Linked DNA regions of Homo sapiens: region 2 is linked to region 1. The links come from fine-mapping of genetic effects on gene expression. A gene starts in region 1. The other region holds a variant in brackets. All regions are shown on one strand. Distances are from middle to middle. Region 1 holds the start of SEMA3B-AS1 (SEMA3B antisense RNA 1). Region 2 holds the start of TUSC2 (tumor suppressor 2, mitochondrial calcium regulator).

Region 1 (4,379 bases):
GGGCCCTCCCGCCTGCCAGGTGCACCTACCTTGGAAGGAGAGCCGAAGGCGTGGGGGGCTGGGGGCGGCACTCCCCAGCCCCACTGCCCAGAGCAGGGCCAGGCCCGGGATCACGGCGGCAGCCCCGGCCCGCCCCATCTCAGCAGCTCAGGGTGCTCAGGGTTCAGCGGGTGTGTGTGTGGAGGAGCCTTGAGCTGCCCTGGACTCTGCCCCAGGATCTGGAAGAGGAGTCAGCAGTGAGGGCGAGGGCGGGAGGCTAGGGGGGGAGTCCCCAGGGATCAGATTACAGCCCCTAGGGGAAAGAGGCTGGGGGGTCGCATTCCACTTCCGAACCCTCCCCTCCGAGGGTGCCCCGCCTGGCCACAATCACAGACACACCCACGCCACTGGGCACACCCTCAGGGTCACCCTGCACTGGCAAGCCCGCCTCACCACGTCACCCTTCCCAGTAATCTCCTCTCTTGTATACACACTCACAGACATTAATTCACAATGTGCCACCCACTTCATGCCAGCCTAGACCTGGGAGGAGGGATACTGGGAGACATAGACAAGGTCCCCATGTGAAAGGGGACAGAGTGCCAACAAGGAATCAGATGGATGCAGAGGGTGCCAAGTGCAATGAGCAAAACAAGCCAGTCAAAAGAGTGAGAGTGACAGGAGGGGGTCAGGCCTCTGGAGGTGGCAGTGTCCCCACAGTCCCGCAGAAAAACACAGAGACACTTTTGAGGCTGGAGCCAAGGGTGTGGGTGCCTGTGAATGTGTTTCCGAGTGTCCCCTTGTGATGTGCGCATGTGTGTAGTGTGTATGTGCATGTGTGTGCACATCTATGTGCAAATATATAGTGTGTCATATTGCACATGTGTGGATATGGGTTGGTGTGCACACACATGTGGCACTGTGCAATCCATGCAGTACATATGTGTGATATGTGCATATTTTGCACACAGATGTGTTGCACATTTGTGCATGTGCAAACGTGTGCACCCATAAGAATAGACATGTCTCTGGGCATGCAAGTGAGCAAATCCAACTGCAGCATCAATCACTCCATTCCTCAGAGGGAGAAGTGCTACCCAGGAGACCCAAGACCTGGGCAGAAGCCTCAGCCTCTGACTTGGGGACTGCTCCCAACCCAGCTGAAGCAGCCTCTGCATTTGAGCTTGAGGGCTCTCTCTCCACACCCCTGAGGAATCAAAGAGGGGCAAGGTGAGGCAGCCCTTCATTTGCACCCCAGCCTCCTGGCCTCGCTGAGCTGGCCTTCCCTCTCAACGCCTCCACAGCCTCTCTGAGCCTCTCCCTTCACTTCTCTCACCCCTTGAGTTCTTCCCCATCTTTGAGCCCCTTCACTCTAGGAGCCAGACACCTCCCCCTGGCCCTCAGCTGGGGCAAAGACCTGGCTGCTATGCCCACCCTCCTTCCCAGGGGTCAGCTGGGCAGGTGCTGGACACAGGAGCCCAGGGAGTGGGACAAGGTTCCAGGTGGGATTAAGCAAGTGGAGCAGCTGCTGAGGCAGGTTCCAGGCCCCTCCACCCACACTCCTGCCCAGCTCCTGGCCCCATCCCAGGCCAGGACCCCCACCTCCCTCCTTCCCTCCGCTGACACTTGCCGCTGCCTCTTCTCAGGTTCTAGAGGTCTTCCAGGCCAACACTGGCTGCCTTCTCACACTCCACCGAGGACTTCCGCAGCAGCATCTCTCCACTCTGGCCCCTTCCCACCCTGGGGCCGCTGGGGACCCTCTGACGGCTCCTTTAAGAAGCAGCCCCCGCCCCCACCAGGCCAGCCACCGCCCCACGCACCGCCCGCCGTGCCGTAAAGTTTAGAGGGCGGATCGGGTGACCGGGCAGGCAGCCGGGACCAGCTGGAGACGGCAGCCAGGCGGGAGTGGAATGGGCACAAGGGAGGGGCTGGTAGGGACGACCCCTCCCATATTGGGCCTTAAAGCAGAAGGGTGCCCCAGGTGGCGGTCCCAGAAGCCAGGTGGCCAGCCAAGGCAAGGGAGGAAGAAACCCCAGCTCCAGGGGCTCAGCAGGCAAAGGGAATCACTGAGTGGGGGCACCACCCGTGGACTCCAATATCTCAACCTCTCCCTCCACAGGTGGGGAGCTGTGGGGAAAGATAATGGGGAGCTCAGCTGCCACCTCAGTTCCCAGGGACCGGCTGGGGTGGCCGGGCAGCTGGAGGTCAGGGGAGGGGCTCTCAACTGGAGGTCGGATGGGCCCTCAGGACCCAGTCCCCATCCTTCCTCAACACTTGGGCCACTTAGTACTTCAGTGGCCTGGCCAGCAGTGGCTTCTACCATGACAGCCAGATAGGGGAGGGAGAGGAGGGCAGGAGAGGGGCAGACGCAGGAGGAGCAGCAAATCTCACTTCTGCACCACAGGGCGGGGCCCATCTGGAGTCCGCCATCCTGGACAGGTAGCTTTGCATCTCTGCTGAGAGGTTGGGGGGCAGACCATGTGACCTCCCTTCCTCTGGCTTCTCTTTCTAGGTTGGAGGTGGGAGGAACAACCCCCACCAAACCCAGAGCCGAAAACTGAGGGAGTTTTACAGACAGGACGGAGCTCCTGCACCTCGGAGCCTCAGTTGGGAATGACCTGGGGTCTTGTCCTGAAGCTGAGTCTGGTGAACGTGCCCCATTTGTAACATGAGGGGTACTTCTCTGGAGGGACTGTATGTTGACAGTGGCAGAGTGGAGCCCTGAAGTCCACCTGAGTGAATATACCAGGGCTTGAGAATGGGCTTTGATCCTTCCATCCCCGCAAAAGGCATTTTCCTACCACCTCCCAAGGCTGATGGGGCAGTGTGGGCATTTCAAGTGTTGCAGTTCTGTTGCCCAGCCCTGGATGCCTCCAGCCAAGCAAGGACAGAGGTGGGGGGCACATCTCCAAGTCCCCTGGAAGTGGAAGTGGGGCTATGCCCCTCCTTCCTGAGCCTGAGGACCTGGTATACCTGGCCTGGCCTGGCCAGCTGGCAGGTAAATAACAGGGGCCAGTGGGAGCCGCAGGGCCCTTCAGGAGGGCAAGTGGAAGGACAGATCCCTGCCTGGGCTCGTGGGCTTCCTGGATGTGGCCTTTTCCTACTCCAGGAGTAGCTGCCTCTAGCCTTAGAGGACCTGGGCAGGCTCTCCTGGCTCCATGCAAGCAGACAACATTCTTTGGCTGTTTACAGCTTTCCACCCAAGCAGCCAGGATCAGCAAGTGCCTCAGAGGCTCCCATCCACTCCCACTGTGCCCCCATAGGCCCTCACTGCCTTATGTTTTTCCAGGCCCAGGGGCCCTGTCTCTGTTTCATCACCCCGCACCTTCCTCCACCTGTGTTCACTCTGGGAAACGGTATCAGAAACCCCCCCGCCACCGCCATTATCTTTCCAATAGCCTGGGAGTCAACCCCCAGCCAAAAGGACTAGACTGTCTCTGTCCCCATTGAGTGCTGTGCCCTGTCCTCTGTCCTCTAGATGTGTACCCTCCCTTGAGTAGGAATGGAGGTCTCCAGGGATGGGAGGTCAAGTTGTCCCTGATTCCACATGGTCCCCTTTCTGTTCCTCAGCCCCAGGTCCAGTGTGCCAGGCCATGGGTAGGGGCCCCCATGGAGGTCAGCACTCCAGGAGCAAGGTCACTGCCTGTGGGTCACACTGGGGGCTGGAACTCCTCGAGGATTCTGGAATCAGGCAGCCTGAGCCTGAGTCTCAACAGAATGGGGCAAACCAGGCAAGGCAGCTGGGGTCCCTTTTCCTGCCTGTACTCCTACCCTGGACCTCTCTCTTTTGAGGGAGCTTCCATGGGCAGAGACCTGCCTGGGTCCTTGCTCTGGGGCTGCCTGTCAGTGGCATGGCCTACCACGGCCTTGGCTTTTCCTTCTGGAAAAACCTGGATTGTTGTGCCAAATCTCAGCACCTGCCTCCCCACCCCTGGCCACCAGCTGGGCCTGCCCCTTTGCCCCTGCCTGGACTCCGGGTGGTGTGGTTGGGGTGGGACACCCATCTGAGGAAGGTTGTGGCAACCCTCCCAGTGCAGCCTGGACTGGATGGGATCTTGGGCGCCCCACTCACACCTGCTTTAGTCATCAGGGCTTGTGGCTCCAACGTCACAACTCTTCCTTGTTCTGGCCACGTAGGTACCAGGTCATGCTGCCCAGAGGACTTAGGCACAGTGGGGGCAGGCGTGGGCGGCCATAGGATCATCACCTGAGGCCTAACTTCCCAGACACTCTAAGGCCCTGCCCCAGGGGCATCTCCTGGGGAAGCGTCTGCAGGCATGTCCTCACCCCAGCCTGGTCTCCACATTCCCAGGGAACCCTGGCCCACCTTTTTTGAAAGATTAGCTCCTCCCCTCCTTGCCTGTTCCCCTTCCCTTCTGAGGGCCCTGTCAGAACTGAGA
Region 2 (4,379 bases), 61 kb before region 1:
TGGTGGCCTCAGCTGAATGCCTCCTGTGGGGAAAGGGGTTGGGGTGACAGTCATCATCAGGGCCTGGGGCCTGAGAGAATTGGCTCAATAAAGATTTCAAGATCCTCCTGCTGTTGGAATCTTTTATACATATAAAGTTTTTGTAGAGACATGAGTCTCTCTGTGTTGCCCAGGATCCTCCCAACTTGGCCTCCCAAAGTGTTGGGATTACAGGTGTGAGCCACCCTGCCCAGCCTGGACTCTTTATTATTATAGGCGCAGAGCTGCAGTTGCCCCTCATGGTGCCAGAAGTTGCCAAGGGTGATGGACAGGCTCCCAGGTGTCTTGCAAAGTCACCATGGACCAATTTGTGAAGATGTAGTATGCATACATACTTGGTCATCACTCAGCTCCCTGGGGCTCAGGTTGTGGTGGAGACAAAAATGGACTGCAGTTAGAACTTAGGGAAACTGGCTGGGCATAGTGGCTCACACCTGTAATCCCAACACTTTGGTTGGGCTAGGTGGGCAGATCACTTGAGGCCAGGAGTTCGAGGCCAGCCTGGCCAGCATGGCGAAACCCCATCTCTACCAAAAATACAAAAAAAATTTAGCTGGGCGTGGTGGTGGGCGCTTGTAGTCCCAGCTACTCAGAAGGCTGAGGCAGGAGAATCGCTTGAACCCGGCAGGCAGAGGTTGCAGTGAGTGGAGATCACACCACTGCACTCCGATAGAGCAAGACTCCAACTCAAAAAAAAAAAAAACGGCCGGGCGCAGTGGCTCAGGCCTGTAATCCCAGCACTTTGGGAGGCCAAGGCGGGTGGATCACCTGAGGTCCGGAGTTCAAGACTGCCTGACCAACATGGTGAAACCCCGTCTCTACTAGAAATACAAAAAAATTAGCCGGCATGGTGGCAGATGCCTGTAATCCCAAGTACTCGGGAGGCTGAGGCAGGAGAATCGCTTGAACCCTGGAGGCAGAGGCTGCAGTGAGCCGAGATCGTGCCACTGCACATTATCCTGGGCGACAAGAGTGAAACTCCATCTCAAAAAAAAAAAAAAACAAAACCATCCCTTCAACACACACACACCACGCTCTGGGAGAAGGTGTGGCATAACTCCTTCACCAAATACAGAGCTGCCACCGTGGACCAGACACTGCTCGTGATACCGAGGGTATAGCTGTTAACAATTCTTGCTTTCATTAAGCATGGACTCTGCTGGGTTTGAAAACACTGAATTCGAAGTTCTTCAGAACTGAATGTAACTATGTGAATCTGGCCAGTTCCTTAATTTTCTTTCAACTTGGTTAGTTCACATAAGCGTGGCAATCGCAAAAATACAGCTGTGAAAATAGAAGCCAGATGGGCACCCGGCGGTCTGGCCTTAGGCCCTGAAGTGCAGGTTTGAGGATTGGTGCTTGCGAAGTCCTGCTAGGCCTGAACTCAGGTGTTGGGGGACGTCAGAGCCGCCAAATACACCCAAAAGACCGGGAGGACTCACGGCCACCACTTTCCTCGGTGGGAGCTGTCCCAGCTGGTCAGATCGCGCTTGCTGGGACCTGGGATCTCGCAACGCATGCTGGGATGCCCAGCATCTAAGGGCGCCCATTGGTCCCGCCCCCACGACTTGAGCAACAGCCAATCAGAGGTGGCAGCGTGCGGAAGCGGAAGTGAGGTTTCCGTGGAGACAGCCGAGCCTGCGGAAGGCGGCGGCGGCGGCACCTGCGATCAGCGGCTGGGGCAGGTTATGGTAGTGCGGACTGCGGTGTGAGCAGAGCGGCCACGGGGCCCGCCATGCGCCGGCGGCCCTGACATGGGCGCCAGCGGGTCCAAAGCTCGGGGCCTGTGGCCCTTCGCCTCGGCGGCCGGAGGCGGCGGCTCAGAGGCAGCAGGAGCTGAGCAAGCTTTGGTGCGGCCTCGGGGCCGAGCTGTGCCCCCCTTCGTATTCACGCGCCGCGGGTAAGGGCATGGGTTCCACCCTGGCGGGGGGAACAGGCGGGCGGCCAGGCGTCCCGCGCCACGGGGGAACTTCCACCGCTGTACCCCACTACAGCCAAGCCAGGACGACCCCCATATTTTGAGCCTCATTGGAGCTGGGGGTGGAGAAAGCC[G/A]GGCAGTGGTCTCCTGGCGGCCTGGCCACTCTGAAAGTCTCCCTAGGGAAGAGTGGGCCTGAGGCTTGTCACTGGTCGGACCTTCCGCACGGTAAAGCTAAGCTAGGGCCTCCATAAGACCTCCATAAGATCTCTTCCTTTCATCCCTTCCGGCTCAGCCTGCATACTGAAGGGTCCTAGCCTCCCTTTCCCCCCCAGTTATTCCAAGGGGATAATAACCCTCTGTTTAGGCTGCTTTTCCTGACAGTAGTGGGGCTGAACCTTTGAGCGTAGTGGCTGGGAAAGCAGGGATAGGCCTCAGTATTGGGGGTGAGGCTGAGGAAAAAAGACCCTCACCCAGTTATGTTCTCCAGATCCAGAGCGCTGACCTACCCACCCAACCCCCAGCCCAGTCTCCCAGAGGCCCGCACAAGAGTACCAGATTGGCTTGGCTCTAGTGGGCTCCTGGAGATGGGCGCTCCCTGTGCTAGAGATTTGGCTGTAGACACCAGGAAGACCCAACAGTGGCAATTCACCAGCCACCTGGGGTGTGGGGTCAGGGGAGACGCAGCCTTCATTCCTTTGTGCTTCTTCCTAGCTTAGGCTTCTGCTATTTCAGTCTTTGACACTGGGCCAGCAGCATCTTCTGGAGTGAGACCAACATGCCCAGGCCACCACCCTGCCCACTCTAGAAGTCCTGGGTGAAGGCAAAGTCCTGATATTAGAATGGCTGCCCTTGCTGAACAAATCAAGGATGAGAACTGGCCTTGGTGGCTGCCTGGATGGTGTGCTCTGGTGTGGGCTCTCTTCTTGGGGGTCTGACATAGTAGCACTGCCCACCCATCACCTCACTTCCCACTTTCTTCTAGTAGACCCCAAACCCCAGGCAAAGGATTCTCCAGGCAGGCCAGGCACCGTGGCTCACGCCTGTAATCCTAACACTTTGGGAGATGAAGACGAGTGGATTGCCTGAGTTCAGGAGTTCGAGACCAGCCAGAGCAACATGGCAAAACCCCGTCTCTACTAAAATACAAAAAATTAGCAGGGTGTGGTGGTGCATGTCTGTAGTCCCAGCTACTTGGGAGGCTGAGGCAGGAGAATTGCTTGAACCCAGGAGGCAGAGGTTGCAGCAAGCTGAGATCGCGCCACTGCACCTCCAGCCTGGGCAACAGAGTGAGATTCTGTCTCGAAAAATTTTTTTTAAAAAAAGGATTCTCCAGGCATATTATCCTCTTTTCTTCCCACTTGGGGTTGGGAAGACCACAGACTTCCCCGTGACCTGTGACATTTGCCATGCCCAGGTGTGGGGCTCCAGCCCAGCCTGTTTCCTTCTCCCTCTACACAGCTCTATGTTCTATGATGAGGATGGGGATCTGGCTCACGAGTTCTATGAGGAGACAATCGTCACCAAGAACGGGCAGAAGCGGGCCAAGCTGAGGCGAGTGCATAAGAATCTGATTCCTCAGGTGAGGGGCTGGGCAGCGGTCACAGAGCCTACACTAAGCGTGTGGAGGTGGACCCAGATGGGATCTGTTGTCATGGTGGGGGCTTTTGCGGGGGGATCTGGGAGGAACAAGGAAGCTTCCTGAAGTAGAGGCCCTGAGCTGACCCTTACTAGCCTCTGTTTCCATGGCAGGGCATCGTGAAGCTGGATCACCCCCGCATCCACGTGGATTTCCCTGTGATCCTCTATGAGGTGTGACCCTGGGAGGTGGCAGACAGAAGCACCCCCTGCCCCGGCAAGAAACTCCCAGGCTCAATCAAGGTGTGGCTTCCATTGAGGAGCCCAGGCTGGGGCCACAACCCTGAATAAACTCTGTTGGCCCATAACCTTCAGCTGTGAGCGGGTCGGTCCCACAGTATTGGTTGGGTGTTGGTTTGTGTGTGGACAAGAGGTGGTTGGTGGGTGGTGAAGGCTAATGGCAGAGTTAGCACCCCACTCTCCCAAGCCACCCCTGCAAGCAGCACAGCAGGGCATATACCAGTCAGGAATGCCCGTTACCTGGTTCCTTGCCTGGTCTGCTTTCTTCCAAGTTTGCCTGGGGCCTAGCCCTGCTAGAGGCTACAGCACTTTACAAGCAAGGTATGCTTTCTTCCAGCCCCTAGGCTGTGGGCACTGTATACAAGTAGGAACTTCCTTTCCTTCACTTCCCTTTTAACCCCTAGTCAGAGCATTTCAGCCGTTTGCTACCTCGATTCCTCCTGTGTTGGACAGAGGCTGGGGGCAGTGCCAGCCTGATTCTTCCGACCTACCTGCCATTTGTTCCCGCCTTCAGATGGATGGACAGTTTGCTGGCTATTGATAGGAG

What was found. PIP is the estimated chance that this variant, and not a neighbour inherited with it, causes the effect. A credible set is the group of variants that fine-mapping cannot tell apart.
Region 2: its variant is the best candidate, but not a certain one, in a credible set for the expression of SEMA3B-AS1 in subcutaneous fat (GTEx, PIP 0.86).

What each region holds. Positions count from the first base shown.
Region 1 is chr3:50,265,000-50,269,378 of GRCh38, reverse strand. It overlaps SEMA3B-AS1 (SEMA3B antisense RNA 1), which reads left to right and starts at 2,008. Exons shown (of 2, transcript NR_110702.1): 1 at 2,008-2,098; 2 at 2,492-2,738. SEMA3B (semaphorin 3B) reads right to left here and starts at 232. Exons shown (of 17, transcript NM_001290060.2): 1 at 30-232. The coding sequence starts at 138. RefSeq lists enhancers at 3,877-4,379, 4,328-4,379.
Region 2 is chr3:50,325,514-50,329,892 of GRCh38, reverse strand. TUSC2 (tumor suppressor 2, mitochondrial calcium regulator) reads left to right here and starts at 1,670. Exons shown (of 3, transcript NM_007275.3): 1 at 1,670-1,939; 2 at 3,416-3,536; 3 at 3,707-4,379. The coding sequence starts at 1,794. The coding sequence ends at 3,772. RASSF1 (Ras association domain family member 1) reads left to right here. Exons shown (of 6, transcript NM_007182.5): 6 at 1-105. RefSeq lists an enhancer at 1,426-1,535. The variant G/A (reference allele first, on the strand shown) is at 2,092.